2 separate regions of the Homo sapiens genome follow, and region 1 is reported to be linked to region 2. Evidence: microRNA targets listed by miRTarBase, many of them from high-throughput screens and not tested one by one. Region 2 holds a microRNA gene; the other region holds the end of a gene's coding sequence.
The links. Region 2 holds the annotated microRNA hsa-miR-3929 (GAGGCUGAUGUGAGUAGACCACU, at 1,767-1,789, opposite strand). A microRNA usually pairs through its seed, bases 2 to 8, with sites in the 3' UTR of a target mRNA and lowers its output. Matches are read on the target gene's strand: a 7mer-m8 pairs with bases 2 to 8, a 7mer-A1 pairs with bases 2 to 7 and ends in A, and an 8mer does both.

Region 1: miRTarBase lists MTPAP as a target of hsa-miR-3929. Seed matches in the 3' UTR shown: 7mer-m8 at 3,415-3,421, 7mer-m8 at 1,610-1,616 and 7mer-m8 at 1,431-1,437.

Annotation. Positions count from the first base shown.
Region 1 is chr10:30,309,052-30,314,110 of GRCh38, forward strand. It overlaps MTPAP (mitochondrial poly(A) polymerase), which reads right to left. Exons shown (of 9, transcript NM_018109.4): 9 at 750-4,920. The coding sequence ends at 4,558. Among named protein-coding and RNA genes, the nearest start is that of MTPAP, 38 kb to the right of the region's middle.
Region 2 is chr18:35,932,322-35,937,394 of GRCh38, forward strand. MIR3929 (microRNA 3929) reads right to left here and starts at 1,821; the gene lies at 1,767-1,821.

The DNA of each region.
Region 1 (5,059 bases), not on the chromosome of region 2:
CATTTTGAGGGGCTGAGGCAGGCAGATCACCTGAGGTCAGGAGTTTGAGACCAGCCTGGCCTGCATGGCAAAACCCCATCTCCACTAAAAATACAAAAATTAGCTGGGTGAGGTGGTGTGTGCCTGTAATCCCAGCTATTCAGGAGGCTGAGGCCTGAGAATTGCTTGAACCCAGGAGGTAGAGGTTGCAGTGAGCTGAGATCGCACCACTGCACTCCAGCCTGGGCAACAGAGCTAGACTCTGCCTCAAAAACAACAACAACAAATCATCAATGATTTACCAATGAAGATATACTCAACCTCCTTAACTTGAAATTGGCAGTTCTTCCCCATCTTGCTCAACCTTAACTTCTGCGTATCACATTAAAAACTACATCCTAGCCAATCTGGACCCCTAGTTCTCCAAACATATGACAGCTACTCACCAACTGAATGTCAAACTCTGCAAAGTGGAGTTGCTACTTCAACAAGATGCATCTGCTTGGAAGCTCCTTCTGGCTTTGCTGCACATATTCAGTGTTTGCTTATTTACACAGGCAAATGTAGCATTTCCCTACCACGGCACCAGGAGGCTCTAAAGGGATGAATATGGCTGTACTTGGAAGGCCAAGGAAATCCTAGGAGCATGGAATGAGGTGGAACAATCTAATTCTGCTCTCACCTGACTACAGCGTAAGCCACCTGAGTAGAGCTCTACACCTGACTACAGCAAAAGAAAGACGCCAATAGGAAATGACAGCAGAAAAAAGTCTTATTTCAACTCAACTTTATTTTCCCTTCTCCTTTATGGTAACTGAAGGTGAATGAGATAATTACACACAGTTTTCCTATAACGTTTCAGGCTAATCGTTATTTCCTAGAAAGTCTCTGGCTAATTCTCAAATTTTCTAAAGATGGATAATAGCTCCAGGAATTATACTAGTGGGCTATAGCTGAAATCGTTTTGATCTGGGTAGTCTCCTATCAAAATTACTTTCACATACTTAGTAAAACTCATTACAGGTGAAAGCTACTGAATGAAAGCCTAGTAATAGTTATAGAAGAAAAAAACTTGAAAAAAGTTTTACTTAACATTGCAATTATTTTTAATTAAGAAACAGCAATGACAAATAATTGCTAGTTATCACTATCACGTAATAAAAATATTTTAAAAATCTGGGTTGTGATACACTAAAGTTATGAGAAAATATATTTGTCTGTAGTCTATATTCAGTTGAACAGACTTTAAAACTGTGTATTAAAAGGTCTTTGCAGCCAGGCGTGGTGGCTCATGCCTGTAATCCCAGCATTTTGGGAGGGCGAGGTGGGCAGGTCACCTGAGGTCAGGAGTTCGAGACCAGCCTGGCCAACAGAGTAAAACCCCATCTCTACTAAAAATAGAAAACTTAGCCAGGTGTGGTGGCATGCACCTGTAATCCCAGCTACTCAGGAGGCTGAGGCAGAAGAATCACCTGAACCCGGGAAGTGGAGGTTTCAGTGAGCCAAGATCACTGCACTCTCCAGCCTGGGTGACAGAGGGAGACCCATCTCAAAAAAAAAAAAAAAAAAGGGTCTTTGTAGGCCAGGTGCGGTGGCTCACACCTGTAACCTGTAATCCCAGCACTTTGAGAGGCTGAGACAGGTAGATCACTTGAGGTCAGGAATTCAAGACCAGCCTGGCCAACATGGTGAAACCCCGTCTCTACTAACATACAAAAATTAGCTAGGCATGGTGGCAGGCGCCTGTAATCCCAGTTACTTGGGAGGCTGGGGCAGGAGTATCGCTTGAACCCAGGAGGCAGAGGTTGCAGTGAGCCGAGATCGCACCACTGCAGTCTAGCCTGGGTGACAGAGCAAGATTTGCTCTCAAAAAAAAAAACAAAAAACAAGTCTTTGTAGATTTAAAATTAATCACATAATTAAATCTGATTCTGAAAAGTAAAACAGCCTAGTGTCAAGGCTGTCCTACAAATTACCAAAAAGAAAAGAAAATGCTAACCCATACACATACTTTATGTGCTTAAATAACCATATTACACCTAGCACCAACCTAAAAAAGAAAATATCTGACTAAATATCTGTGAACAGAAAAAAAAATTTCATTTAGAAACCCTTAAGTGGTTTATGCTTTTTAAGCTTTTTAAATCAATATGGATTTCTAGCCCAACAAAATAAAGAACAAATGAAAAATGGCTTTTAAAGACATCGCCTGTACAGAACACTGATATTTGTTGGTGTCAAATGTGCAATCCAATAGCACAGACACAAGGACACAGAATTCATTTGCTTCATAACAATGCTGAGTTTCTTAAAATATCCCATGCAGAACCCATTATAATTTCTGACATAAAATTTAAATGGGAAAAATTTTTAAAGTACTACAAACTCTAAATCTGAATTTTGAGTAGCAAAAAAGGTAATTACATACCACAAACACCGAAAGGCAACAGTTAAAGAGAAGTAACATTTACTTCGCGCCAGGAAAATGCACTGACCTAGCATTTTCCTACATCCCTCGCTTAATCCTCACATTGATCTGATCATGATCCCCATTTTACAGATCAAACAGGGGCCCCAAGAGACTGAGTAACTTGTCATTGAGCCAGTCTCGCTCAAGTCTGTTTTTAAACACTATACTACTTGCTTCTTTTCCTTTGAGAGAGTCTCACTGTCGCCCAGGATGGAGTACAGTGCTGTGATCTCAGCTCACTGCAGCCTCTGCCTCCCAGGTTCAAGCAGTCCTTGTGCCTCGGCCTCCCAAGTACCTGGGACTACAGGCATGTGCCGCTATGCCCAGGCCTTACTTGCTTCTTAAATAGAAAGTTACTCCACAGAAGCCAGGTGCAGTGGCTCACGCCTGTAATTCCAACACTTTGGAAGGCCAAGGTGGGCGATCACCTGAGGTCAGGAGTTCGAGATCAGCCTGGCCAACATGGTGAAACCCTGTCCCTACTAAAACTACAAAAATTAGCTGGGCTTGGTGGTGGGCGCCTGTAATCCCAGCTGAGGCAGGAGAATCACTTGAATCCGGGAGGCGGAGGTTGCAGTGAGCTGAGATTGTGCCATTGCACCCCAGCCTGGGCAACAAGAGCAAAACTCCGTCTCAGAAACAAAACGAAACAAAGCAAAAAAGTTGCTCCACAGAGAATGTAATGGAAATTAAATTTCAATATACAGTTGCCCATTGAACAACATGGGTTTCAACTGCGAAGTCCATTTACACACAGATTTTTTCCAACCAAACTTGGATTGAAAATACAGTATTCTCGGCCAGGCATGGTGGCTCACGCTTGTAATCCCAGCACTTTGGGAGGTTGAGGTGGGCTGATCACGAGGTCGGGAGATCGAGACCATGGTGAAACCCTGTCTCTACTAAAAATACAAAAAAATTGTCCGGGCGTGGTGGCGGGCACCTATAGTCCCAGCTACTCAGAGAGGCTGAGGCAGGAGAATGGCGTGAACCTGGGAGGCAGAGCTTGCAGTGAGCCGAGATTGCGCCACTGCACTCTAGCCTGGGCGACAGAGCGAGACTCTGTCTCAAAAAAAAAAAAAAAAAAAAAAGAAAGAAAGAAAATACAGTACTTTCACAGGATGCAAAATCTGCTTATGTGCAAGGTGGAATTCTCCCATGCACGGGCTCCACAGGACTGAAGGAGTTCAGTGTGTGCAGATCTGGGTGTACGTGGATGGTCCTGGAACCAATTTTCTGCATATACTGAGAGACAAATATGTCTCTTTCCTGCAGGAAGAGGGGAGTTCTCAAAAGAGATGTGAAGGAATACTGGGAATATCACATTTTAGTTAGAAACAGAATTTTATTTTTGAAAATAGAAAAATCAAACAATATTTTTAAAATGCAATCTATTGATGTCATCATATTTGGTTTGGAATACCTAAGAATGCAGTGACTGAAATGTCTGTTCTAAAAACATAAACATTTTTTGATATCAGTACCAACCCACTTTAATTTATATGTGAATAAGAGAACTTCGCTTGAAAAATACAAATATACATATTCGAGAGCACTACCAAATTTTGAAGCTTAATGTATTCATTGCCAACGTACTGTACATAACTAAAAGTCATTTTAAATGTTTTCTAAACAGGGACTGATGTGGATATCAACAATGGTTTCATCCTAAAACTGAGTTTTAGCATTTGTTTAGTATATTTACCTATTTAGTTAAAGCACATTACAATAATCTTTCACCCATTCCTTGTGGCTTATGTTTATTTTCATTTTTTTTAGAGATGGAATCTTGCTATGTTGTCCACGATGGATTCAAAATCCTGGGCTCAAGAGATCCTCCTGCCTCAGCCTCCTGAGCAGCTGGGACTACAGGTGTGCACCGCCACACTCCACAGCTGATGTTTTAATAAAGTGCCACTGAGTATCAGACTGATCAAACTGAAAACATCCCAGAACTTCAGACCAGGTTAAGGGGGCCAATGAGAAGATCATGAAAAGTGACATCAGATGAAAGCTGAGATCTGTGAAAGTTTCAAATCAGTTTTTCCAAGTAAGTCCACAGACCATTTGATAGGCTAAGCCCAGTTCTTTACACAATGTAGCAGCCATCATGTCTGAGTACTAATTGTTCTCTTCCCACTGGTTTTTGTGAAATTTTCTGTTCTGTTACCTTTTAAAGATTCTAGCAAGTTTTTGACTGTTTCAATTGCAAACTTATTGCTTTTCTTCTTGGTAAAGGACTTTCTGTTTGGAGCAGATGGTAGCAATAGGGATACCAGCCCCCAGGGCCGATTACTTGATATGGAAGGTCGATCTGTATCTTCCTGTTGTAAAATCCAGGCACTTTCTCGGGCCAAATCTACAAATTTTTGCAGCTGGCTTTGACTTACATTTTTGCTTATGTTGAGAGAAGTTTCAAATGGATTCTGAATGTACAGAGGAGAAGAATCAGGTTTGTTTTGCTCCCTTCCCTATAGATTATTACACAGAAGAAAAAATGAGTAAGTACATGAAGGGCTTAAATATAAAAACAGTTAACTCAATAAAATGTCAAAACACATAAAACACCAGCATTAACTTTACATAGCAAAGAATTTCTTTCTCAGGGGA
Region 2 (5,073 bases):
AAAAAATGTTACTAGCCTTATACTTAGTAAAGAAATTGAACGTATTATCAAAAATCTTCACACAAAGAAAATTCTAGACTCAGATAGTTTCTTTGTTGATTCTGTCAAACATTTGAGAAAGAAATGACATCAAATATAGACAAACTCTTTCTAAAACACAAGAGAAGAGAACACTGTCTGAATCACTTTTATGAGGCCTATATAAATTTGATACCAAAAAACTAGCAAATATATTACAATAAAAGAAAACTACAGAATATCCCTCATGAACCTAAACAAACTACTAGCAAATCAAATACAAAAATACATGCAAAAGTTCATATTCCATGAAGAAGTAGGTGTATCACAAGAGTGCAATGTTGATTTAACATATTAAATTGTCAATGTAATCCACCATATTAACAAAACGAAAGAGAAGACAAATATGTAATCATTTCATAAGCAGAAACATTATTTCCCTAAGTTCAACTGCCATTTATGATAATGGTGAAATATTGTCCTCTTTTATTATCAAGAACAAGCTAAAAATGTTTACTGTCACCACTTCTGTTCAACATTGTACTGGAGGTCCTAGGCAGTAAAATAAAACAAAATGAAATAATAGGCATAAAGATTGAAAATTAAGAAGTAAAACTCCCTTTGTGTATAAATGACATCATTGTTTGCAAAGAGAATCCTGAGGAATTTATGTAAAAATAGCAAGGTCACAGAATACAAGATCAATCTGAAAAAATCAATTATATTTCGATTTACTACCAGCAAAAAAAAAGTTTAAAAACCAATTTTATTTATAATGATATCTAGAACATTAAATACTTAGAAATAAGGTTAACAAAAGGTATTTAATAACTCTATGCAGAAAACTATGAATTTAGAAGACCTAAATACATGGAGAGGCATTTCATGTTCATAAGTTGAAAAACCCAATGCTTTTATAATATACAGTCTCCTCAGATTGATCTATAGATTCAATGCAATCTGACTGATAATTAGGTCAAGTTTTCAGAGAAACTGACATATTGATTCTGACATTTATATGGAAATACTAAGGTCCTAGGATCTCTAAATTAATACTGACAAGACAGAATATGAGGACTTCCACAACCTGAGTTTGAGGCTCCAGTAGCCAAGCTAATGTACACAAAGCAAGTTTATGCAAATACATGAATAAAACACAACAGGCAGCCTAGACCTAGACTCACACCTATAAGGTTACTTAATGACTGACAAAGCCACCGAAGCTCCAATGGGAAAAGTAAGCGCTTTTCTAGAAATGATGCTGGAAAAATAGATATCCATATGGGGAAGAAAATGAATCTCAATTCCTATCTCAACTCATGCACAAAATTAATTCAATATGGATGATAGACCTAAACATAATACAGCTAAAATTATAGTAGTCCCCCTTTAACCACAGTTTTGCTTTCCATGGTTTCAGTTACCCTCAGCCAACCAAAGGGACATGTGGCTCATCATCCACTCACATCCAAAAAACTAAAAGAGAAATTTTAGAAATAAATAATTCATCCCTTTTTAAAAAAATTTTTTTGAGACAGAATCTCACTCTGTCACCCAGGCTGGAGTGCAATGGCGCAGTCTTGGCTCACTGCAGCCTTGGTCTCTCAGGCTCAAGCAATCCTCCAACCTCAGCCCCCTGAGTATCTGGGACTATAGACATGCACCACCACGCCTGGTTAATTTTTGTATTTTTTGTAAAGATAGGAGTTCGCCATGTTGCCCAGGCTGGTCTTGAACTCCCGGGCTCAAGTGGTCTACTCACATCAGCCTCCCAAAGTGCTGGGATTACTGGTGTGAGCCACTGCACCTGGCCAACTCATACGTTTTAAATTGTGTGCTGTTCTGAGTAGCATGATGAAATCTCAGGCCATCTGTCCCGTCCCTCCTAGGATGTGAATCATCCCTTTGTCTCGTGGATCTACACTGTAGATGCTACCTGCCTATGGGTCATTTAGTAGCCATCTGGGTTATCAGATCAACTGCCGTGACATCACAGTGCTGATGTTCAAGTAACCCTTATTTTAGTTCGTAATGGCCCCAGTGTGCAAGAATAGTGGTGCTGGCATATCATTATAATTGTCTGTTTTATTATAATTTGCTGTAATCTCTTCCTGTGCCTAATTTATAAATTAAACTTTATAATAATATAATATTATATATAATATAATATAATTTATAAATTAAACTTTATAATAATACATATAGGAAAACAACACAGTATATATACAGTTCTTTAGTATCCATGGTTTCAGGTATCCACTGGGGGGTCTTGGAATATGTCCCCAGCAGATAAGCAGGGTATACTATATAGAACTGTCAGGAGAAAAATATTTGAAACCTGAGAATAGGCAAAGATTTCATAGGTCACAATTATAATGATATGCCAGCATCACTTGTCCATGACAAGGTGCTTTACAGAGGCCATTGTCTCCTTTTAGCTAGGCAGTGAAAAGCACATTACAAGTAAAGAAAACAGCAGTTTTCTTAGACTGTTTACTTTGCAATAAAGGAATACCTGAAACTGGGTAATTTATAAAGAACAGGGGTTTATTTGGCTCATGCTTCTGCAGCCTATACAGGAAGCATAGGGCCTCAGAAGCTTCCAATCATGGCAGCAGGTGAAGGGGAGCCAGTATATCACGTAGTGAGAGAGGGAGCAAGAGAGAGAAGGAAGTCTCAGGCTCTTTTAAATAACCAGATCTTGGGCGAATTGGTAGAGCAAGAACTCCCTCATTACTGCAAGGATGGCACCAGGCCACTCAAGAGGGATCCACCCCTGTGATGCAAACACCTCCCACTAGGCCCACCTCCAACATTGGGGTTGCCATTCCAACGTGAGATTTGTAGGGCACAAGTATCCAAACTATATCAATGTCCTCTGAGTGTGTGTGTGTGCACGCGTGAACTCATGGGGTTTCTTATTCTCATAAATTCTGGCAGTCCTCTATTAATTACTTACTTCAGACACAAATTATAACCAGATATGGGACAATATAGTTACTAGGGAAAAAAGTTTACTTTCTAAAAAGAATTGGCATATTCTTTGGTTAATTAAGAGGAGAAAGTATCCAGAACCCTTTTCCAGTTCTCTTTGCAGAAGCGTATAATTGCTTTAAGGGTCTTTCTGGCGAAAAGTGATTAGAGGATACATTCCGCCAAGCACCAGGCTGCTCCCTCGGCATGTCCCCCACTTCTGCTGATGCACTAACGTGTCTCAAATCAGTTGCCAATTGGCAGGTGAATCCTATAAAACTGCAAACCTCTGGTGGAGAAACATTATATAAAAGGAATGTAATTGCAGGAAGCTTTCCACCTGCCCCATTCTAGAGGCATCGCAAAGCAGATTTTGTCTAAAGGCTTACCAGAAAGTGAGAGGGCTCCAAAAGGACTTAGAAGGCCCATCAAGCACAACCTGGCATTGTTCATCCCTAATAATTATATGTGCAGAGTTTTATAGTAGCTCTTCTCCTAGTGGTTCTTTTCATCAGCCTTGTCAATGGAGTGAGAATAAACCTCCCTTCCTGTCTGCCACCCCACCCCACCCCCACTGTGAAGCACCTGGGTTTTGTGTGGGGTTGACTCCCCCGTGCATCCCAGCATCAGCCCGGGCCTGACCAGTCTAGCCCAATCAGGGCATCCCCCACTCCCCTTGCTGTGGTATTTTGTTCAGGGATGAACTCCTGCAGAGAGAGTATGTCTTCATCAGAGACAACTGGCAGGCCTGCCCTGCCGAGGAAAGCCAGCCTGAAGACAAAGCCCACACAGGGCAAGAGAAACTAAGAGAAGTTAAGACAGAACCAGAACCCTGATCAAACCACACCTGGAGCCCACCAAGCATTTGTGTCGCAAAAACTTAGTGAATCCCATCTAATGTTCAAACCTGTGCATTGGATTAGGTTTTTAGTACCCTGCACCCAAAACCTCCTCACTAAAATACTACATATCCTCTGAAATATTAAACAAAAGAGAATGGAAACTACCAACTACTCATGTAATGAGTTTTAGAAATCCTGGCCTTGAAAGATGTTGTGTTCAGGAACGACTATATAACCAACATAGGTTGTATATTTTCATGGGGCAATGACACCTCTAATAATTCACGCATCATTTTCTACTCACGCACTGCTTACTTCTATAAGGATTTCACATGGCTTACAACAAAATACCTATATATTAGGATAATAAAATAAGAGTTAATTATCCAGGGGAAAAGATGGATATATCAGAAAACATCAGTGAAGTATAACTCTTAGGTTGGAACATACAATTTAGCTCCGAGCATTCTGTCAGCCAAGGTTAAAATTATTACAGGTTGAGTATCCCTACTCTGGAAAGCTGAAATCTGAAATGCTCTAAAATCCAAAACTTTTTAAGTACCAACATGATGCTCAAAAGAGACGCTCATTGGAGCATTTCCAATTTTAGATTTTTTGACTTAGGGATGCTGAACAACTAAATGTAATGCAAATATTCCAAAATCTGAAAAATATTGAAATCTGCAACACTTCTGGTTTCAAGCATTTCAGATAAGGGATACTCAACTCAACCTGTATCTTACTATCTGAAAAAGAAAAATATCTATGTTTGCTGGGAGGTATGACGCTTTTTCCTAGCAGTAGTAAGTAAGCTCTAGAGCAGCTGTAGTCAGTTTGGGAAGTTTAGGCCCTTGAATGCTGACATTAGCTGAACCACTTTAGCTTATCTGTATTTAGAGCATCACCAAAAGTGTTGACATTAATCTATGTACTGGCAGTGTTAGAATGTTATCAGATTCTGGCAGAGAAATGTTTACATCAGCACTTGCAAGAAAGTAGGGCGGGGTGCAGTGAGTTTTTCAAGGAAGTACAATGTGATCCCAGCCCCACAGGGTTGTTGTCAGCAGCAGCAGGAGGGCACACTGAGGGCTTGAACTCTGCAGCCCCTCTGTACCCTGAGGACAAACAGGGTAGGGAGGTGGAGAAGCAGAGAGATGAAAAAGGAGGAGGGAAACCATGTGGGGGAGTCCTCAGAAGGGCAGCTAAGCTGCAAAACCCTAAAGTATGCAACTGGAAAGGG